Homo sapiens: one gene and its partners. The protein of the gene in region 3 interacts with the protein of the main gene of each other region in a biochemical or structural test. Each region holds a gene or a part of one and is shown on either strand. Other genes may lie near its edges.

Region 1 (7,265 bases), on a different chromosome or scaffold from region 3:
AGCCACCACGCCCAGCCGTTTTTTTCTTACCATAAAGTGTTTTCATGTTGAGACGTTTCCACTTCAAAAAATTGTACCTAACAACCCAGAGCATGCTCTGAATTTCACCTTATCAAACTCTTTGTTTCTTGCAAATAATTTTCCTGCTCAAAACATCAAGAACACATTTTTAAAAAAAGTAGACTATCAGTGGATTTAGCTGCCTATATTTTCAACTATAGACTTTACAGTGGATATTTTTCTTCTCTGTATGGTTTGGTTAGAATTCTAGCTTAGGAAGTTATGGTTGTCAAGGTTTAGAGACATTTTGGTTCTAAAAATAGAAATAATTCATGAAGAGAGAAAGTTCACTTCTTTATTTTGAAGTATTTATTTAGTATCAAAGTTGTCTGTTACTCTAATTCTTAGGCTATTTACCTACGTCGCAACATTTACTTGGGGAATATTCTTTTAAAACAGGTCAGTAATGTCAGAATGAGAAAGACAAGGGAAAATCTAGATTTGTATCAGTTTTAGGTTTTATTTATCACATATAATTACACATTACATATTACATGCAGGAAACTTACAATACAGCCTAATATGTTTATGTATGCTGGTACATCAAGAACAATACAATGCAAAAATTTATATTTTTTATATACAACTATCTGAAACAGTCAAATAGGAGTAATGTAAAAATAATTTAGTGAATTGCTCACTGTTTGATATACTAGTTGACATTTTGATCTGCACATGAGACCATTATGATTTAGCAGGTAGTTCTTTTGAAAGCTGCATCTGATCATCCTGTCCTACCTGGAAATGTGAAATAGTAGCTTTGTCTCTACTTTAAATGAAGATATTTATTTTTCAATAGTAAACAGACATGATGATGGAACTAACACACTAATGAAGAGAAAAAAAAAAAAAAACCAAAAACTTATAGAAAAACTCCCAGACCATCAAAAGGAAAACAATGTTGTGTGTTTTTTTTTAACATTCCTTTTTGTGCATTATCACAACAAACAATATATGTATTTGTCTCTATAGGCGAAATACAGGTTTCCAGGCAAATATTTTTGAAAAGCAGATGTGGGGAAAGAGCTTAAAAACACACACAGAAAGCATGTTGTGCTCACTGTTACAACTGTGGATTTCATACCATGTTTTGAAAGGTGATTGTGTTTTCATTTACTTGGATACAAAATCCGTAAAACAGAAACTATTCTATACTTTTTTATTTTAATATGACCAGTTGACATTTCTATGTCCTGTTTAGGTGTCTGGACTACTGTAAATTAAAATGTCACCCTGGCATACAAACTGAATCTACGTGCAGAGCAGCAGGGGTCTATCTTTTATTTCACCCCCAACACTGTCAAGGAAACGAATTAATTCTGCCCTTCTTTCAGACTCAGGAATATAAGCAGCTAGAAAGAGGACAATGGGTGGAAGGGTTGATTGCTTATGTTAGGTTTGACTTAAAGCTATAGAATAAAGAAGGAACAATTCAGTTGCCATTCTTATTCCTGGAGAGGAAAAATAGTTTGTGGGCAGGAGTCTGTTTAAAATGTCTGAACTTAATCAACCATGAGAGGCTCTCATTTACTCAGATTCTTTACAATATTTTGATTTTTTTCCTACGGAAACATTATATGTATCTTTTAAAACCAAGGGTTATTAGTTACCTGAATTTCAAATGCAATTTAAAACATGGAGGACATCTTTTCTTTTCTAGTGGAAATTATATTTGGATAGCAAAAAATGTGTCATTAATGTTATAAAAAAATGTAATGACAAGTGACAGAGCACCTAATCTTTAGACTTACTTTTTTTTAACTTTCCTATTTGCTATGTTTGACAGAGTAGTTTTTCAATTTTTTAAAATAAATCTGCACTTACAAGGTTTCTTTTTTTCATATAACATAATAAAATGAAAACAACAAGATCACTCATTGTTTTACATTTTCATAACTGGCTATTTAAGTATGTAAAAGTTCAGGAAATGTATTGCCAGGGGAAGGATGACTTAGTGAAAACAGGCATTTTTTCTTTAATTCCCATTAAAATAATGGAAATGTATGTGCCAATATAAATTCCCATTTATATTGGTATATATATATTCCCTTTATATATTCTATTTATATTGGTAGATATATTTTTATGGAATGGCATATATACTTTCATATAATGGTACTAATGCTTTTATATGGATATACAATTAGTATATAAAGGGAATATATATACTAGTATTTCTAACTTAATTCCTATTAAATTGATGGGGATTTATAGGCAAATATTCATATAGCTATGCCTAACACAGAAATTTTTATGGTAGGAGTATTAAATTATAAATGGTAGCATTGAATTTTATGGATTCAAGATTTATGAAATTTTAAACATTTCTGGCCAGGCGCAGTGGCTCACACCTGTAATCCCAACACTTTGGGAGGCCGAGGCAGGCAGATCACGAGGTCAGGAGATCGAAACCATCCTGGCTAACGTGGTGAAACCCCATCTCTACTAAAAATACAAAAAATTAGCCAGGTGTTGTGGCGGGCACCTGTAGTCCCAGCTACTCAGGAGGCTGAAGCAGGAGAATGGTGTGAACCCGGGAGGCAGAGGTTGCAGTGAGCCAAGATTGAGCCACTGCACTCCAGCCTGGGCGACAGAGTGAGACTCCATCAAAAAAAAAAAAAAAAAAGAAAATTTAAACATTTCCATGAAATCGATGGTTTGGGTAGAGACAAAATAATTTAAATTTCAAATTAAGATTTAGATAGAGATAGTATAATTGAAAGCAAATTCTAATTTTCATTTTAAGTTTACTTCCAGAGTACAAATGTAAATAACAAGAGTGCAAGTAAATTATTGATGCTGGAGTTTCAAATAAGGAGGTAAGCCTTTGGTAAATTGTATTTTAGTATTGATTGCATTTTATTTTGATTACAACTATCATATAATTCCCACGGGTCCATTTCACTATGTTGTGTGTGTGTGTGTGTGTGTGTGTGTGTGTGTGCTGGGGGGGGAGGGTGTCGGTGGTAAAGTACGCTTAAAATGCAAAGTGCCTGACTGATAAGAGAAACTTCAACCAAACCAGCCATTTAAAAAAATCACAGGAGTCTTCAAAAGCTTGAGCAGCTGTAGAGCAATCCCCAACAGTCTGGGAGCTCATCAGACCTTGAACTAAAGAAATATGTTTCAAGAATAGATATAGAACTATTTTTCAAATGAATGTAGATGTTCTTATGAGAACTAAAATACACATCTGAAATTATTATTGACATTTTAGTTTTTCCATTATGATTTTCTGTAACAGTGGGCACTAAAACTCAATTATGTGGAAGTCTCCAATCATATATGATGTTGACATTGAGAGGAGAGAAAGACCCTCTCACATTGTTTTATATTGTTTCATATTCAGTAAAAACAACAAGGAAGTAAAACCAAATACAGGCAGCTCAGCGCCAGGCCCGAAACCAGGCCTGGGCCCGCCTGGCCTAAACCCAGTAGTTAAAAATCAACTTATGATTTAGAAGCCGATGTTATTCATAGATTCCTTACATTGTATAGAAGAACATTGTTCTGTTCTCTATTGTATAGAAGAACTCCCTGTCCTGTTCTGTTCCTCCCAGACCACCGGTGCATGCAGCCCCTGTCACATACCCCTTGCTTGCTCAAATCAATCACGACCCTTTCATGTGAAATCTAGTGTTGTGAGCCCTTAAAAGGGACAGAAATTGTGTACTCAGGGAGCTTGGATTTTGAGACAGTAGCTGGTCGATGCTCCCAGCTGAATAAAGCCCTTCCTTCTACAACTCGGTGTCTGAGAGGTTTTGTCTGTGGCTCATCCTGCTACACCATGAGGTTCCTATACTTCAAAATATTAATAAAACACAGATATAAGTTAAAACTCCTATTCTCTTTTGACATAATAGAGCCAAATTGACTTATGTTTATAGATCCAATTTAACATTAATTTCCTGTTTTTTACAAAGATCTCTGTGCACTATGCAAAAACAGAGCTAGAAGAAACAATACTAGTTTTTAAATTTATGTCAGAAATAGCATAGCTATTACCTGGCAGTTCCCATTTATCAGACCTTCAGCTCTCCATGAGGTACAAGGTAGCCTTTTTCCTCAATGATGTCTTTATGTGCTCAGTCTCCAGCTGTCTCTGGGAAACCAGCTAGTTCGAGAACAACCAGTATGATTGCTTCAACTGTCTTCAGGATCAATGATAAAACAGTAACCAAATTGATCTCTCAATTTCCTACTGTGAGTTTCAAACTTATTATGAGAAAAAAAAGAATTAAAAGAGGTGCCCATATTTTAATATGCATGTGCACATTCATGGGGCAACATACATCCTGGCACAAGGATCCTCAACGGACTGTCCCAGTTCTTAGACTTCACTGGAATTTTGCTATGGTGAACATTGCTTCAAATAAATGGTCCTTCAGCTGTTATTAGGAATTGTACTAAATAATTTGGTGCATAGATTTGCTTATGATAAGATTTAGTTAGAAGGAAGGAGTTCATTATAAAAGTGAAAAAGGAATCCCGTAGTCAGAATTAACTCCACCTTCATTTTATTCTTTTAATAAGTGGGTAAAGTTTATTAAGAAAACACACAAATCACTGGGCAGATCTTCAGGTAAACACCAGTTTTTCTTATTGTTATTTTCCCCCAGCCCATTCAGAAGTTATATGATTGAATTACAGGTAGCAAGGGGATCCTGAGAACACTTGCCAGATTACTATTTGTAATACTGAATTTATAAATCCTGGAAATACTCTGTTATTTGAACCTAATTTATACAGATGCGGTAGCTTGCATGGAAAGTACTCAGCTGGGGAGTAGGCCTATTGGTTTTCTCTGGTCCCTTGAGAAATAAGGGCCATGAATTTCCATAAAGCAAATGAGTTTTGAGTTAATACAGCAGTGATCAGTTACAGCTTACCACTGAGACAGAGCACTGGGTGAGCCTGGGGGCAGACGGGAACAAATTGTATTACAGCCAAAGAGAATTACAGGAAGCCTTTGTTATTTTCCTGTTTTCTGAATGAACCCCTGCAGAGGCAGGAACAGGCATTAGGAATCAGGTTTGCCACCTGCAGAGATGCAGGAGAACAAGAATCAACCTATGGATTTCTTGTGCTAGTCAGGATATTGGAGATTGAATTCTGACTGGCTCTAAGTCAAAATGATGGAGAGAAGAGAGTTGTTATTTAGTGAAAGCGAGGGGTGGGGAGGGTTGTAGCCGGCCCACCACAATGTCAAGTCATGAGCACAGGTACATCTCAATTGGTGGTGTGGACCTCCTAATCTAGTCTGGTAGTTCTTATCCTGAGCGTGTATCTGTGTGATGACAAACATTTCAGGGACAAGTAAAACGTCTTAAACACAACAAACAAATAAACAAGCAACAGCAACAAAAAACCCAAACAAAACCTCCCCCTAAGCCCCTAAACCCTTGAAGAGTAGGCAAGTAGGGCATAGGTGTTTCTGAAAACACCTAACTGGTCATTTTATTCAAATTCACTTTATAAATGAGACCTCTTCTTTTGGAAGTCTCTGGCGGAATCCTTAGATGATAATGGCCACTGATTTCAAAGCATGACATCTCAGAACACAGCAAAGAAAAGCCACATGTATCACTATGGTAGGAAAAGTGTAGAATTTAATACTGCATCTCAAGGCTGTGTTGTGTGAAGGAAACTTTGGGCACATAGCATGGCATGTGGCACTTTTTTTTTTTTTTGAGACAATCTCATTCTGTTGCCCAGGCTGGAGTGCAATGCTGCGATCTTGGCTCACTGCAACTTCCGCCTCCCCAGTTCAAGCAATTCTCCTGCCTCAGCCTCCCGACTAGCTGGGATTACAGGCGTGCACCACCACGCCTTCCTAATTTTGTATTTTTAGTAGAGATGGGGTTTTACCATATTGGCCAGGATGGTCTTGATCTCCTGACCTTGTGTTCCGCCCGCCTCGGCCTCCCAAAGTGCTGGAATTACAGGCGTGAGCCACCGCGCCCAGCAGGCACTTTTTTATTTGGGGAAAGTAAGAAGTCTAATATGTCACCAGCAGGACCCACATGTTTACCTCTGCTTGGAGAACCTTTGAGGCATTACTGAAGGCTGTACACCTGTCACTGAGCCTTCCTAACACAGAGCAGTGAACAACCATGGAAGCCAAATCTACCCTGCAGATGAAAAGAGGCACCAGCTGATTCTAGGCTTGGTTGTTTCGGTGTCACAGCAGTGTAGGGTGGTGACATTGCCACCACAACCAGATACAGAATATGAAAAGCACTTCTGCAACCCAGAAACCCAGCTCCTGAGGGAACCAGGGAAGAAGAGCCTATGAGACATTTGAATTTTGCAAATATTGGGTAGTGTTGGGACACTTCTGCCCTTCTTGAAATGGGGGAATATAATTGTTGTTCTCCTTCCCAGAATTTCTTTGTCTTTGTCCTCTTGGACAGTGAAATCACAACCATTAGGTCACACAAATGTAGTCTCCTCTCCCTTCTCTCTGGTCTTGTTAATTAAAGCAGTTTTGCTGTGCTTAAATTAATGAAGCTCACTCATGTTGTTCAGTGAATATGGCTATGTTCAATTTTACCCAGACTCTTAGGAAAAGAGTTGTCTTCTTTATTTCCTCTTTTTTTTTTCTCTTCTCCTATATCTTCTGTGGTTTATACCACTTATCTCATTTCCGTTTGGTATTTTGTAACCCTGTGAATTTATCAAAAAATGTCTAGCCGGGCCGGGCGCGGTGGCTCACGCCTGTAATCCCAGCACTTTGGGAGGCCGAGGCGGGCGGATCACGAGGTCAGGAGATCGAGATCATCCCGGCTAAAACGGTGAAACCCCGTCTCTACTAAAAATACAAAAAATTAGCCGGGCGTAGTGGCGGGCGCCTGTAGTCCCAGCTACTTGGGAGGCTGAGGCAGGAGAATGGCGTGAACCCGGGAGGCGGAGCTTGCAGTGAGCCGAGATCCCGCCACTGTACTCCAGCCTGGGCGACAGAGCGAGACTCTGTCTCAAAAAAAAAAAAAAAAAAAAAAAAAAAAAAATGTCTAGCCTTAGTGGGCAATGCAAACTTAAATAAAACATTTATGCATTTGAAGCGAAAGAGCGTAAGTTTAAGAGACTTTAAAGCAAATGGGATGTGATAGCCTGTTTTCAACTTTTAGGTCCTTTCAAAAATCAAATTGCAAAGGAAGTTGTAGGTAATATTGGAAACCACCTTTCTCTGGAAGGTTTTTTTTGCT
Region 2 (7,648 bases), on a different chromosome or scaffold from region 3:
TAGAGAATAAGGCCTACATTTTTTACTACTAATATGAACAATCCAATCCCTATGTATAAGCATTCCCAAATGAACTCTGCTCTTCCCCATTTAAAAAAAAAAAGTTGAAAGAAATAAGCACATCTGAGCCTGCGCCTTTGGGAGGCTGAGGTGGGCGGATCACAAGGTCAAGAGATCAAGACCATCCTGGCCAACATGGTGAAACCCCGTCTCTACTAAAAATACAAAAATTAGCCAGGCGTAGTGGCGCATGCCTGTAGTCCCAGCTACTCAGGAGGCTGAGGCAGGAGAATTGCTTGAACCCGGGAGGCGGAGCTTACAGTGAGCTGAGATCGCGCCACTGCACTCCAGCCTGGGTGATAGAGCAAGACTCTGTCTCAAAAAAAAAAAAAAAAAAAAAAAAAGGAAATAAGCACATCTTCGCTCCTGACTGGGGAGGCTTCACTTTGAATTCTACCTTCCTAACTGCATCTTTAAAACTATCATAACCTCTAACAACCTTAAACATAAAGGAAAGGTGATAAATGTATAGTAGAAAATGAGGTAAAATGAACAGGAAAAAGACAGGTCCTTCACTTGGTTATCTTCTAATTGAGAAAACCACTACATGTTGTTTCAAGTTATCTGATCGAATCTTTTACTCAGAGATGTTTCAAATATTCAAAATCCAAGTTCATCCTCCTAAAAGTGATCATTTCCCATGCTGTATTCCATGGGCATATAATCATACCACCCAGAGGGCAAAGAGCATTTCTGTGCTAGATGTGAGGTCCCATATTCTTACTAGGTGTTCCAAAAACTGTCTTAAACCCCAGGTCTAAAAATCTTTCTATAGTGAAATAGACTAGCTCCATGCTCTGTTGACAGGTTCAGACAGGATCATACATATGGCTAAGAGATCCACCCTGAATAAAGGTAAACAAGATGCCTTTTCATGGAGTTGCTTACACGTTATAGTTCACACAAAACAATCTCCCCAGTATGACTGCTCCAATCTTACTTTGTATGAATAGGAATGATTCTTCTTCTTCCACTGCTTAGGAACAGCTCACTTTAAGTCATTCAACAGAGCACACTTAGTCCTAAAGATGCCAATTCATTTCACAAATATTTCTTTAAATAATAGATTCTAAGCATAATTTTTCCTGGCCAAAGGGTCCCAATAGCCAGAAGGAGTAACTTTGTTCTTAATTGCTTTTGCAAAGCACAGTCACTAAAGCCCACCAAAAACTTCTTCAGCACAAAGCTCAAAATATTTTTAAAGGAGAAAAGAAAAGGAAGGAAGGAAAGAAAAAGAAAAGGAAAAGACAGAGGGAGGTGGAGTTTAGACTCCAATTAAGGCATTTTTATACATATAGTCCAACTTGAGTCCTATTCAAAGAGAATCCTAAAAAGATGTTTTCAATGGGGAATGGCAAAAATCACAATAGTCTATTATCAGCATTGTAGAACTATCAATTGCTCACTTCAAATGCAATCATGTTGAATGTCTGTTTCTTCGTTCCTCGGTTCTCTCATTCCACAAGTGCATAGGTTATGTCTTCTGTAGGTCTGGGGAAAATGGGCCAGGGGTGGAAGGTCCATCCAGCCCAGACAGAGTGAATGGCCCATGACTGTTCAGTACAGAAGGAAACTGAGAAAGAAAACAAAACACATTATCATCCTATTACTCAACCCCAACTTTTACTTTCTATCCTACTCTATTACCTGAGGCAAAACACAACAGCCTTCTGTAATGGCTCACAGGACAAAGGCAGTGGCTGTTTATCATGAAAGAATATGATGTCATAACAAAAACTAGAAACAAAAATCTTTTGTCCTAACATATTAAATATTAACATTCTCCAACTTACCTCAATGGAGTAGAAACAAAGAACAACCTGTACCCTCCTTCATATCCTAAGGTACACAGGTTTACAATTAACCTCAAATGAAGGTTTTAGAAAGTTCAAGTAAATGACAATATGCACTACAGAGTGTAATTCAATTATGGAGCAAATCATAAACCCTCAAAAAGAGATCCAGAAAGGTATAAATAGCACTCATCCTAGAAAAGGGTTCCCCATCAAGTATTCTGAGGCCAGCTCTACAGGGAGATTCCAGGCTGAAGCTACAGGAGCACTATGACTTTGCTTAAGGTCTCAGCTGACTCTATAACTCAATTATCTGCTCATGTGTGGCAATGAAAAAAAATATGAAAAATTCTCAACTTTTTTTTCTATTCAATAATTTTAAACGTTGGCAAAAAATAAAAAGCAGAGAGATTTTTAATTTTCCTCTTTTTCCCTACCATTTCATTTCTAAAAGAATGAGAAGTTAAATTACAAAATATAAGAAAATCAGAGATAGTCAACCATGAATAAGTAAATGAATTGACTCCAAGAAAGTCTTTAAGTTATAACATCTAAGTGTTTTGGGCAAAATAATGGCTAAACCCATTAGGAATGGCAAGAACTTTCCTAACGTCTTGGTGAAGAGATAATATTCATTTTTTTAAAAATGTACATATAAAATGTTGATAAATTATCAATTCTGACTGAGGGAGAAATGGGACTGTTTGATATACCATTTTCAAGACCTTTCTCTATTAAAAAAAAAAAAATGCTTGGGCCGCGTGCAGTGGCTCATGCCTGTAATCCCAGCACTTCGGGAGGCTGAGGCGGGCGGATCACCTGAGGTCAGGAGTTTGAGACCAGCCTGATCAACATGAAGAAACCTCGTCTCTACTAAAAATACAAAATTAGCCTAGCATGGTGGCACATGCCTATAATCCTGGCTACTCGGGAGGCTGAGGCAGGAGAACCGCTTGAACCCAGGAGGCAGAGGTTGCAGTGAGCTGAGATCGTGCCATTGCATTCTGGCCTGGACAACAAGAGCAAAACTCCGCCTCAAAAAAAAATTTTTTTTAATCTTTAATTAAAAGAGGGAACCTATGTGCAGAGATCCCCCATATATGTGTGTGTGTGTGTGTGTGAGAGAGAGAGAGAGCAAGAGAGAGAGAGAGAGTGTGTGTGTGTGGATTTTGTTTTTTTGAGACAAGGTCTCACTGTGTCACCCAGGCCGGAGTGCAGCGGTGCCATTATAGCTCACTGCAGCCTTGATCTACTGGGCTCAAGCGGTCCTCCCACCTCAGCCTCCCAAGTAGCTCTAGGGGCCACAGGCACGTGCTACCATGCCTAACTTAATTTTTTTTATTTCTAGTACAGACAAGGTCTCCTTAGGTTGTCCAGGCTGGTCTCAAACTCCTGAGCTCAAGCAATCTTCCTGCCTCGGCCTACCAAAGCGCTGGGATTACAGGCATGACACACACACTGCCTGGCCCATTTTTTTTTTTTAAATAGAGAATTTCTAGTGACAAAAACTTGGGGTAGGCTCTAAATCTCCTACAGTATTGAACAATTCTTGGTCTAACTCAAATGTATGTAATAGTAAATAATGAAAATGAAACTTTGCTATATTTATTCAAGCTGTTTGCCAGCTAGAAAATTAATATTTGGAAATTCAAAAATAAATCTAAAGAATATTCATTGGGCAGGGCACAATGGCTCATGCCTGTAATCCCAACACTTTGGGAGGCCAAGGTGGGCGGATCACCTGAGGTCAGGAGTTGGAGACCAGTCTGGACAACATGGTCAAACCCTGTCTCACTAAAAACACAAAAATCAACCAGACGTGGTGTTGCACACCTGTAATCTTAGCTACTCCGGAGGCTGAGGCAGGAGAATCGCTTGAACCTGGAAGGTGCAGGTTGCAGTGAGCTGAGATTATGCCACTGCACTCCAGCCTGGGTGACATGGTGAGGACTCCATCTCAAAAAAATAAAAAAAGAATATTCATTAAATAGAAGTTTTATAATGATTAAACTGAATAGTGGGACCCTGCCTTTTTGCCTCTTTCTTCATTTAACATGCTCCAACTACAGAAGACAGATATTTATAAAATTACCTGGAAAAGTGTGTTAGCACCTTGCAGTCTGGCTGGACTTAGGGGAGCAACAGGACTGAGAGTACTCCAGAAGTGGATACTGGAGAGCAAGGGGCTTGGAGTCAGTATGATGGGTGTCTGCAATACACAAAGCAAAAATATTCACTGACTGACTTACCAGGATGTTTTATCCTTGAAACAGCACACAAATAACCCAAACCTAAATATTGCCCTATCCTCCACTCCAAATATCTCCAAGTCTGAAATATTATCATGACAAAACTCAAAAATTATTTTTACAAACTAAGAGGGATAAAGGTGATAATAACTACTTAAAATTTTTTAAATTTTTATTTCAATAGTTTTTGGGGGTACAAGTGGTTTTTGGTTACATGGATGAGTTCTTTGGTGGTAAATTCTGAGATTCTGGTGCTCAACCTCTTTTTAAGCCAACATTTATAAAGTCTTTTCCAAATAGAAAAACCAACCTGAATTCAGGTACAGAGGAATAATGGGTAACCAAGACACCAGCATGTTTGTTTTTTTTTAATAATGAGGTGTGTGAAAAATCTACTAAAATGTTCTATGAGATGAGCAAGTTAATAAATAGCTAAAGTAACTGTACCAACTTGTTACTCAACATCACACCAGTCATTTTTCTTATGGTTCTCAGGACCTACTGTTTTCTAACTTGAGATTATCACTGTTTGTTTTATAAGACACCAACGAGTTTTATAAGACCGAGAGAGAGCGAGAGAGTGTGTGTACTTTCTTTAGGAGGAAATAGAAAAATCAAAATATTTATTTACTTGTAGAACAATGAATTTTTTAAGAAAATACTCCAAACTTTCTATTTTAGCAATCCTAATTAAGATGAGAAATGGGGTAACTTTCACATGACAGTCACACATAACCTTTCTAAGACAAACCTAAGTAACAGAAAGCAAACTTGAGTGTATAAATTCTGGATTTGCTTAAAAGGGCAAATAAATGAAAGCAATGGTGACACCATAAAGAGCGAGCAAGCTACCTGTGAAAAAAATGCTGGTGTAAGAGAAGCTGTAGGGAGAGATGGGCTCAGTATTCCCAGTGGGCTTGGATCACTGCTCGTGATCACAAGGGTGGGTGCCAGTTCTAACCCTTTGGGTTTCTTGGATCTTGATGAATTATTTACTTTGTCCTTTTCTAGCAAGACTGAATCCTGGTCTTTAGGCTCCAGTGACAAATTCTCTGGAAGTTCCATTGGCTGAGAAGCCACTGAATCAATGTCTGTGTCGATGTCTGGGTGAGAACTCAGTGGTGGTGAAGGTGTTCTGGGAGGTTCCTGCAAAGGGGGTATGGACGAAATGGGTGGTGTGGTGGCAAAAGCAGTCATTACGTTAGAGGCAGAGGTTGGGGCTTCCAGGGAAGGCAGTTTTGGGGAAACCAATGTCTCCAAAGCTTGGATAGTTTCTTCTGAAGATGGAGAAATACTTGGGCCAATTGAAATGGTGGCAGCAACAGGTTCAACCGGTGGCTTTTTGGAAGGTGTCGTGACAAATTTGATGACAGATGGTGTGGGCTCCTGAGGAGATTTTTTCTCTGCCAGTTTCTCGGCTGGATTCTCAGTCTTTATCAATTTGAAAAGCTTTACATTGGAGGAGTTCAAAGAGTTGAGAGTAAATGAAGAATATAAGCCAGAGTGTATGTAGTCATTGCGGCTAGAGGTCTTGGCACCAGGCTGAGGTGGTTTATCTTTCCCTCCATTCTCCACATCTTTGGAACTGCTGCTGACTTCACTGAAGTTTAAACTTTCACAGTCACCCTCAATCCTGCCCACTGTCATTGGATCCATGTTCAAAATCTCTGGATAAGAGACAAACTTGTACACAAACTTCTGACCATTCACTTTTTTGATGATATTCTGTAGGTTAAAAAAAAAAGCATTTTTATCCTTTCTTATAAACTTATATCCCATAGTTCATGAAAAAGCTGGCATCGGCCAGGCACAGTGGCTCATGCCTGTAATCCCAGCACTTTGGAAGGCCGAGGAGGGCGGATCACGAGGTCAGGAGATTGAGACCAGCCTGGCCAACATGGTGAAACCCCGTCTCCACTAAAACAGAAAAAATTTGCAGGGCATGGTGGCGTGCGCCTGTAGTCCCAGCTACTCAGGAGGCCGAGGCAGGTGAATCCCTTGAACCCGGGAGGCGGAGGTTGCAGTGAGCCAAGATCACACCACTGCACTCCAGCCTGGTGACAGAGCAAGAGTCTGTCTTAAAAAAAAAAAAAAAAAAAAAAAAAAGAAAAAGCTGGTAATGAGGTTCTCCATTTTAGAAGTAGACATCACTTACTTAAAACTTTCAAAATCACCTAAATTCATCTAGCCATACCAAACACAGTCCCTACTATTATGGAGAAGTTAAGGCAAGAACATTTAAATGTCTTATTAACAACTGAACTAATATGTTACATAAAAACTGAAGGATTTTAATTGCTTACCACTCTCAACCAAATATCTGTGCAGATTAGAACTCCCTGAACTGCAGTCTCAAACAATTCCAAAGGTATAAGCCATACACATCCTGAGTAAGCAAAAAGGAATTTATTTACTTATTTTTTTGAGATGGAGTCTCACTCTGTCACCCAGGCTGGAGTGCAGTGGTGTGATCTCAGCTCACTGCAACCTCTGCCTCCTGGGTTCAAGCAATTCTCCTGCCTCAGCCTCCCAAGTAGGTGGGATTATAGGCACACATCACCATGCCCAGCTAATTTTGTATTTTTAGTAGAGATGGGGTTTTGCCATGTTGGCCAGGCTGGTCTTGAACTCCTGACCTCAACTGATCCACCCACCCCGGCCTCCCAAAGTGTTGGGATTACAGGCGTGAGCCACCGCGCCCGGCTGTGAAAAAGGAATTTAGAACATAGTATCTGTTAAGGTTCTTACTTCCTTCAGAAATTCCAGTTTATCTCCAGACAGGAAAGCTGGTAAGATCAACCACTTAATGGTGAAAGAGCCCTGCACAGTGGCTCACGCCTGTAATCCCAGCACTCTGGGAGGCCAAGGCAGGTGGACTGCCTGAGGTCAGGAGTTCAAGACCAGCCTCCCGTAGAGATGGTGAAACCCCATCTCTACCAAAAATACAAAAATTAGCCAGGTGTGGTGGTGCATGTCTGTAGTCCCAGCTACTCGGGAGGCTGAGGCAGGTGAATCACTTGAACCTGGGAGGCAGAAGTTGCAGTGAGCTGAGATCACGCCACTGTGTTCCAGCCTGGGCAACAGAGCAAGACTCCGTCTCAAACAAACAAACAAAAAAAAGTGAAAGAAATTAAGATCTCAGCAATTTTAACTAAAAAACCAACTCTGTGTATAAACAGCTACTACTTAAGGTATAAGGTTTTAATTTGTGTTCCCTGGGTTAAACTAAAACTAAAAATTAAGATATAAAACGTATATATGTAGATATATGTGTGTGTGTATATGTACATATATGACTTTTCTCCCCAACAAGACAGGGTTCTCATGGAGTGCAGTGGTGTGTGATCATGGCTCACTGCAGCCTCAACCACTTGAGCTTAAGTGATCCTCCTGCCTCAGCCTCCTGGGCACTGGGACTACAGGTGTACACCACCGCGCCACACTGTTTTTTGTAGAGACGGGGTCTCCCTGTGTTGCCCAGTCTGGTCTCAAATTTCTGGGCTCAAGTGATCCTCCTGCTGCAGCCTCCCAAAGTGCTGGCATTAC
Region 3 (8,297 bases):
GGAGCGAGATGACAGGGCTCAGGCCTCCCTGGACCACTCCCACCCCACCAGCATGGCCCTGCAGCCACCCCTGCCTGCCACAGGGGGCGGTGCCGCACAGCCTTCCCTGGAGCCCCAGCCTGGGGACACCGGGGGTGGGAGTCACCAGCAGTGTCACCTCCCTGGGAGAGAAGCCTCCTCCCCAAATTGAAAAGTCATTGACTTCTTGGCTGGCTCCAAAACGCTGTTCCACAAAGGGTGCTCTCCTGACCTGCCATGTACTGTGTGCACCGCTGAGTTTAGTGTGAGTAGCCAACGTTCCTGAGTGCTTCCTGCTCACACCTGTTATTAGCACTGTGCACAGTCTCAGGGCCACTCCTGAGATCAGTTCTGTTATCATCCCCATTTTATAGATGGGGAAAGGGAGGCATCAAAACACTAAGGAATGGTGATGCTGGTATTTGCAGCAGGCTGTCTAGATCCAGGGCAGACCCTCACAGCCCACTGCAGGATCTGGCCAGGGCTCAGGCAGTGCCAGCCACAACAGAGGGGTCTCCTGGGGATAGGGATTAGACCCTTCCCCCTGCCCACCTGTACATCCCCGTGCCCCTAGTTCTCTGAGTCAGGTGAGGGTCTTTACAAAGGTAACCCCCACTCTTGTCTCCTGGGGCTTTCACTCACCCTCTCTTTTCATTCTCTTACCAACCCTGAAATGTAAGGGGCCCTGCTCCAGCTGGGAACCCAAAGCTGTTTGAGGTAAAGGGGTGGAGCTAGGAATCTGAGGCTCCTCCCACAGCATGGTGCCTTCCCTCCTGGCCCTGGCCACTGCTGATGCCCCTGTACCTTAAACTACCTACATTCTCTGTAGCTTCAGGGACTCCCCCAAGGGGGTGGGGAGCAGAGGGGAGTGACCACTCTAGGATTGAAGGGACAGACTGGCCTATCATTCATGGGTGGTGGAGAGGGAGTTGGCCCCAGCCACCAGCCAGAGCTGCCCTTGCATGACCCCTCCCTCCTGCCTAGACTTTTTTCTGCCCAAAGTCTGTGGCTGGGGTTTACCTACTCCTTCCAGCGGGCATTCCAAAAGCCCGACAGAGCCTGTTCCCCAGGCATCTCTGGTGTTCCTCTTACTGGAAACAGTAGGGAGACTGAGTGGTGGCCGAGAGCACAGCAGAGGAGGCCAGGGGGCCTCTAGGCCCCACCCCTCCTCGGCCCTACTGTGCCATGCGTACACTAGGTCCTTGGCAGGCAGGGTCCCAGGGTGCAGTGGCCCTAGGCAGCCCCCATTTCAAGATACCACTCAGAGCCAGGCCATTTCTGGCTCCTATCTGGGACCCTAGGAGGCATGTCTGCTCCTGCACCCCTGACCCTGGCTTGGCCCCTGTCCTACCCACCTAAACCACAGCAGCCCTCAGCTCTCAGCTGCAGCGCTCCCTTAAGACAGACACTGAATTTTATCCACAGAATCCTCACTCATATCCTGGTAGCCTCATTAACAGCCATGCTAAACAAGTGAATGACCATATGAAGGAACCGTGAATGAATGGATGGATGAATGGATGGATGCTGCCGACCCAGATACACCCTGCCAGGGTGGGCTCCATGCAGCCCGCAGCATCAGGGGCAGAAGGCCTGGGGGCCTGAGCATGCCGGTTGCCTGGTTACAGGATACACATTCACAGCCCCAGGGAGCCACGCGCTCAAGAGCCCTCCTTCCCACTTCGCACAGGGCTTTGATCAGTGCTTCAGAAACACTCTGCCACAGCTCTGCCGCGGGAGAAAGGCCCTGGCAGGTAGGAGAGCCGGCTCCTGATCTCTTTCAGCCCCTCCCCCCTCACCTCTGTGGGCTGAGATGAGAATGGCTGCTGGGGAGGGACCACAGCCTCTCACACCAGGGGAAGTGAGGCTCCTGGCTTCAGAGGGAAGAGAATTCCCTGCATGGATAGGGCCTGGCTATGCCCCACCTCCCCATCCAGGCTGTGCCCACCTGTCAGCCACTCAGTCTCCCTCTGGAACAGGTTTGATACTGAGCCCAAGTGGCTGCCCTTGTGGCTGGTGCCTTCCTGGCACACTCTGCCCTGGGCAAGGCCTCAGCCCAGCTGGCCCCTGGGGACCTGCTAAGTCTGGGGCCATAGGAATGAGAAGTGATGTTAGAAGCGAAGCCTCTGCTTCCTTGGCCTCCCTACCTCAGCCTCAGCTTCTCTCTTTGTTCTGTGCTCCAAGTCAGTGGGCTGATCCCCCTTTCAGAGGAAGAGCAAAGTAGCCGATGGCTGCCAGGGCCCAGTCTCAACTAGGTTGAGCCCCAGGGCAGGGAGGCACAGGAGGGGAAGTGGGGCCAGAACCACCTTCTCCAAGACCAGCCCTGCTCTGTCTGGTACCCAGGTAGGGAAGCTGGGTGGCAGATCCCTCTCCCACTCCGCATGCCCCCCAACCCCACTCAGGCTGAGCCAGGGATCCTTGAGCAGCCTGAGCCGACCCGCCCCCTTCAAGGCAATGGGAGAGAGAAGGGAGAAGGGGACAGGAGTCCTGGGTCAAACACAAGACTTGGGTGACCTCAGTCACCAGGGCTGTCCTTCCTACAGGGGAAGGGGCAACTGCCAGACCTGTCTTTGGCAGGGGGGCCTGGCAGAGGAATAGAGGCAGCTCTCAGACAGCCTCGCCGAGATCATGAAGTTGATCCCCTCTGCTCCTGTCTTCTAGGGGGTCTTCACCAGTTGGGGGTCTACAGAGGGTAGGACAGGATGCATGCCCAGTAAGACCTCTTCTCTGTAGCCCCTCCAAGCCCCCAGTTCAGGGCCAAGCACCAAGCAAGCACAGAGTCACCCACCAACAACTTGGAGGGAAGCAGCCTGTCCCAGAGCACTGGACCATTCTGCCCAAAGTTCTCATTTGGAAACCACATAAATATCAGCTTCAGTGCCTCACACCACCCCGTCTCGCCCAGCCAACCACTCCCCTTTTCAAACACTTCTTTAACATTAAACTCGACAACCAAAAATTTACTAAATATCTGCACACGGAAAGCAGTCAGAAGCAAGGGGAGAGGATGACCTAAAAGAAAAGAGGCCAGGAGAGGTGAGGGGAGGCCGGGGGTGGGGGGCAAACGGAAGGGAGAGGAGGCCAGGGGAAGTGAGACGCTGCTTCTCAGCTCAGACACAGCCCGGCCTTGCCAGCCGCCCCTGCTGCTGCTGTGGTGACAACTTCAACAATAGCAGGGGAGCCGCCTGCCCATCGGTGGCCACCATTGCTGCCACTACCACCACCACTGGCCCAGCTGTTGGGATGCCAGCCAGCCCTCTGGGGCGGGGGCTGCAGCAGGCAGAACCCAGCCCAGGCACATGCCAGGCAGCACGCTGGCGAGGAGCCCCGAGACCACAGATGCACGATGCCCGGCAGCCGGAGGGCAGCCGCGTGCCCCACGCGCCATGCCTCCAAGCCTGGGACCGAGTCCTCGGGCCCCCATCCCTTGGCAGGGCCCCTCCGCAGCTCAGGGTCACTCACCCCGAGCTTCCTGCTCTTCATCTTCACGTAGCCTTGCTTGACGATGTCACTGAAATTGGTCGCCATGGTTTTCCCACCTTTTAGGGGCGCGGGGCCTGGCAGAGGCGAGGGGAAGGATGCCCAGGTGCCTGGGTCTCCGGCTCCTCCAATCACCTGTTCCAGACACTCTGTCGGGGCTGCCGCGAGGGGCTGCTCCTCACCTCACCCGCCTCAGCATTGTTCTAGCAGCTCCTTCGCCCCGCGCCTGCTGGAAATAAAAATGACAGGGAGATTAGAGACAGTGACATCTTTCTCTTCCTCTCGCTGTCTCGCTCTCTTTTTTCCTTCCTCTTCCCACACTCCTCCTCTCTCCCTCTTCCCTCCCTCCTTCCTCCCGCCCTTCTTCCTTCCCTTCCCTCCCCACCCCAGGACGACAGAACCATTCAGGAAAACCGAGGTGGAGGCGGCAGTGAGGAAAATGGTCCAGCCCAGTCCCCTCCCTCACGGCTGGGGCTGGCAGTTAACCCCTTCCTGGGAGGACTGGCTCTGGCTCCTACTGTGGAGGTGGGGACCCAGGAAGGGAAGTGGCAGGGAGCTGCTGTCCCTCAGCACTTTGGGATCGTGGCCCCATCAACTGTGATAACTCTGGTGCAAATTTAGGTCAACTTGCCAAGAGCAAAAGCCCCTTCCTGGGTACAAGAGCTCCCAGGGGTAGCAGGGAAGCGCTTCCCAGAGATGGAGGAGGAGGGTCGCAGGAGATGACCCCTGCGTGTCTGAGTGAACCCCATGCTCTGCAATGTTAAAGACAATTTGCCTGGTCAGCTCAGCAGCCCCCACAAACCCCTCTACCCTCCTGCCCCACCCGGTCCTCTACCTGTTTCTCTCCAGCCCCAGGCTAAGAATCACTACCTCGAGCTCACGCAGGGCCTGTTCCCAGGCCCTGCAACTCTTCCGCACGCAGCTCTGGGTGCTGCTTCCTGGGTGGGAGGGCAGAGTCCAGTGGGGCGGGCCTCCAGATAAGCCTGAGGAATGTGCTGGGCCGGCTGGAGGTAGCCACTGTGGGAGCAGACGCCTTGCCCTGGCCCTGGGGTTGGGAACGCTGGCCAGTCCGTGAGGGTGGGGCCCGGGCCCCAACAGGCCACTGGGTCTGGCCAAGCCAAGCAGGCCCTCCATGTCCTGAGCATGGGCAGGAGTTAATTATAGGAGTACCAGTCAGGGCCCTGGGGCAACAAGACATGCAGGAGACAATGTGGGATACCAAGGGGAGGTAGATATGGAGCAGGAAGTGGGAGTACCAGCAGAGCCACCCCAAATCAGGCAGATCTACAGACAACAAAGACTCAGACTCAGGGGGAGGCTCAGTGTTGACCCAGTCTAACCCCTTCATTTTATAGATGGAGAAAGAAAAGTTGCCCAGAGAGGGTAAGCTACATGACTAAGGTCACACAGCAGGCCTGGGGCAGAGCCAGGGATGAAGGAGAAGGTCCAGGGTGGTGATGGAGACCAGTCTGTGGGGGGAACATCCTGCTGCCGTCTCTGGCTGCCTGCCACCACCTAAGCCTTCCCTGCCATCCATCCTCGGGGGCAGGGTTATGCCAGCAATGTGGCCCCTGTGTCTTCAGGATCAGCGGGTGGGAACGGAGCAGCATTTCTGGGGTCAGCTGGGTATCTGTGCTGCCAGAACGGGGCCCTGGGACAGGCATGCTGCTGGTTGTGCCAGCAGCTTGGCATTAATTAATGTCCTGGAGGCCTGTCTGTTGAGTGCCTAACAAGGAACAGATGGGACTACCCCAGTGGGCACACGCACAGATGGGACTACCCCAGTGGGCACACGCAAACAAGGGAGGGGCAGAGACGGTAATGCGCCCCTATCCCACTTGCACCCTGATAGCCCCTCAATTCCACTCCTGCCCATTCACTGCCTCTATCCCAGCTCCCTGGGGTCCAAGAACCTCCCACAGTTAGGCAGTCTACATTCCTCCTATAAGGTCTGGTCTGGGGTCCCCTCACTGGCAACTGATCCCCAACAGCTCTGCTACACCTGGGCTCTGGCAGCCAGAGATGGGTCAATTTTCTCAGCTCTGTCTTCACCGCCTGCCTCTGGGGCTGCCTTCTCCTCAGAGCAAGGACCAGCTCAGGAGTTCCTCTCCAAGATGATTAGCAGGCTGACCACTGGCTGTGGGTCTACAGTGTGGAAGCCCCCAGTCAGAACACGCCTACAGGAAGCCACTGGACCCCCAGGTTCATCCAACATAGCTCAGACATAGCACAGCCCGGAGTGTGAATCCAGCTGGCTGTGTGGTCCTGGGCAAGCCGCTTAAGACCCTGTGCCTTAATTTCCCCATTGGAAAAAAATGAGAATAAATCTACCTACTTTAAATGAGGAAATGAATTCATGAGGCACCTGCTTGCCCACTTGGGACACAGAGCTTCTACCCTTTTTCTTTTTCTTTTTCTTTTTTGAGACGGAGTCTCCCTCTGTCGCCCAGGCTGGAGTGCAGCGGCGCGATCTCGGCTCACTGCAACCTCTGCCTCCTGGGTTCACGCCATTCTCCTGCCTCGGCTTCCCGAGTAGCTGGAACTACAGGCTCCCACCACCATGCTCGGCTAATTTTCGGTATTTTTAGTAGAGACGGGGTTTCACCGTGTTAGCCAGGATGGTCTCGATCTCCTGACCTCATGATCCGCCCGCCTCGGCCTCCCAAAGTGCTGGGATTACAGGCGTGAGCCACTGCGCCCGGCCTTCTTTTTCTTCTTTTGAGACAGTGTCCTGCTCTGTCACCCAGGCTGGAGTGCAGGGGTGCCATCACGGCTTACGGCAGCCTCAACCACCCAGGCTCAAGTGATCCACCCACCTCAGCCTCCTGAATAGCTGGGACCGCAGGTACATACCACCATGCCCAGCTAATTTTTAAAAACTTGTTTGTAGAGATGGGGCTTTTGTTTTTTTTTTTTTTTTTTTTTGAGACGGAGTCTCACTCTATTGCCCAGGCTGGAGTGCAGTGGCCCAATCTCGGCTCATTGCAAGCTCCGCCTCCCGGGTTCACGCCATTCTCCTTCCTCAGCCTCCCGAGTAGCTGGGACTACAGGAGCCCACCACCATACCCGGCTAATTGTTTCATATTTTTAGTAAAGACGGGGTTTCACCGTGTTAGCCAGGATGGTCTCGATCTCCTGACCTTGTGATCCACCCGCCTCGGCCTTCCAACGTTCTGGGATTACAGGCGTGAGCCACTGCGCCCGGCCCCTAGAGATGGGTTTTCACCATGTTGCCCAGGCTGGTCTTGAACTCCTGGGGTCAAGTGATCCACAAGGCTCGGCCTCCCTGAGTGCTGAGATTACAGGTGTGAGCAACTGCGCCTGGCCAGAGCTTCTGCCTTGAAAACTCCAAGGGCTGTGTGTATGTATATATATATAGTTTTCTTCAAGAGTTGCTGCCCAGACAGGGCGGTGAAACCACCAGAAGCCAGCCTGCTCCTTCCCAGTGTTGCCCCACCAGGGACTGTGGCCCCAAGCTCGCAGGAGTGCTCCTGCTGCGTCTGTCCATAGGCCCCACCCCGTCCCATACCCCAGGTCCCCAGCGGGAAGAGTGACCTTCACGGGGAAGGCTGGGTGCCAAAGTCCTGCCAGCTCACTCCGGCCCTGAGTCACAGGGACCCCTGGCCACACTTAGTCCCTAATGATGTTTGCAAGAGCAAGACCTAACCTAGGACCCAAAATGGTGGGCAAAGAGGGGTTCGGAAGGGGAGGGAAAGGTCAGGGCCAATAGGTGGACCCACAAATTTGACAGGCAGTGGGGTCAAGTGGTGAGGGGGGGGCCCAGAACCAACCCACCATCCTCCAGAAGGAATGCACTGTGTTAAGCAAGCGAGGCGGCCCCCAAGCTGAGCCTGTGAAGGCCCAATAGGACAGCAAGAAGTGGAGAGCAGACCAGGCACAGTGGCTCACACCTGTAATCCCAACACTTTGGGAGGCCAAAGTGGGAGGATCACTTGGGGCCAGGAGTTCAAGACCAGATCCGGCAACATAGAGAGACCCCGTCTCTACAAAAAATGAAAAAATAAGCTGGGCATGTGGCACGTGCCTGTAGTCACAGCTACTGGGGAGGCCGAGGTGGGAGGATCACTTGAGCTCAGGAATTCCAGGTAGCAGTGAGCTATGATCAAGCCACTGCACTCCAGCCTGGGTGATAGAGTGAGACTGTTTCTAAAAAATTTCAAAAAAATCAATTAAAAAAATACAAAAATTGGAGGGCAGCTGAGGCTAGGCAGGCCAGGAATTGGGTTGAAGTAGCCCCTGCCCTGTTTGTCCCTCAGGCCCTTGTCCCCAACAGGCCTGCAGCAGGAAGAATGCTTGCTACTTTGAGAGGACCTGAGGTCTTGGGTCCTTCCCCAGCACTGTGAGCTCCGAGCTCCCAGCTAAGCACGGTGTCCAGCAGTCGCTCTCAGGGTTCCAGTGAGGGAGGAGGGGAGCAAGGGCCCCCCGCATCCCACCTCCCAGCCTGGTACCAATACTGCTGCTTACCCAGGGACAGTACCTGCCTGGTGCCAGGCCACCACAGGTTTCCGCGCAGGGAGAGCCAGCTCCAAAATGCTCCTCTCCCCAGGAAGGGCTGGTGTCCTGGGGTGGCGGGGAGTAGGGAGACTCCCAGGGCCCTCACTGCCCACCTGCCCCACAGGGCAGCCATGCTGAGCACTCCCTCTCGCACATGGATTCTGCCTGGAGGCTTTGGCTCCAGAACAAACGCGCTGAGGCTGGCAACCAATGACTGAGCGAGCGGCTGCCTGCCTGGCTGGGCCTCCCCACCCCTGACAGATCGGATCTTATCAGGGCTGCAG

The links. Proteins that work in one complex are often made in the same cells at the same time.
Region 1: the proteins of DOK4 (region 3) and OPRM1 form a complex in vitro, tested with the Homo sapiens proteins (one study listed by BioGRID).
Region 2: the proteins of DOK4 (region 3) and ELK4 form a complex in vitro, tested with the Homo sapiens proteins (one study listed by BioGRID).

The regions. Positions count from the first base shown.
Region 1 is NC_000006.12:154,125,592-154,132,856, reverse strand, and holds the end of OPRM1 (mu-type opioid receptor), read right to left. Parts: 3' UTR 501-7,265; downstream 1-500. UniProt on the Homo sapiens protein: Receptor for endogenous opioids such as beta-endorphin and endomorphin. Receptor for natural and synthetic opioids including morphine, heroin, DAMGO, fentanyl, etorphine, buprenorphin and methadone.
Region 2 is NC_000001.11:205,615,012-205,622,659, forward strand, and holds part of ELK4 (ETS domain-containing protein Elk-4), read right to left. Parts: intron 5,828-7,648; coding exon 4,955-5,827; coding exon of another isoform or gene 4,817-4,954; exon of another isoform or gene 4,257-4,816; intron 4,063-4,256; coding exon 3,946-4,062; intron 1,634-3,945; coding exon 1,535-1,633; 3' UTR 1-1,534. UniProt on the Homo sapiens protein: Involved in both transcriptional activation and repression. Interaction with SIRT7 leads to recruitment and stabilization of SIRT7 at promoters, followed by deacetylation of histone H3 at 'Lys-18' (H3K18Ac) and subsequent transcription repression.
Region 3 is NC_000016.10:57,475,962-57,484,258, forward strand, and holds part of DOK4 (docking protein 4), read right to left. Parts: intron 4,429-8,297; exon of another isoform or gene 4,334-4,428; intron 3,797-4,333; exon of another isoform or gene 3,728-3,796; 5' UTR 3,547-3,727; coding exon 3,481-3,546; intron 1-3,480. UniProt on the Homo sapiens protein: DOK proteins are enzymatically inert adaptor or scaffolding proteins. They provide a docking platform for the assembly of multimolecular signaling complexes.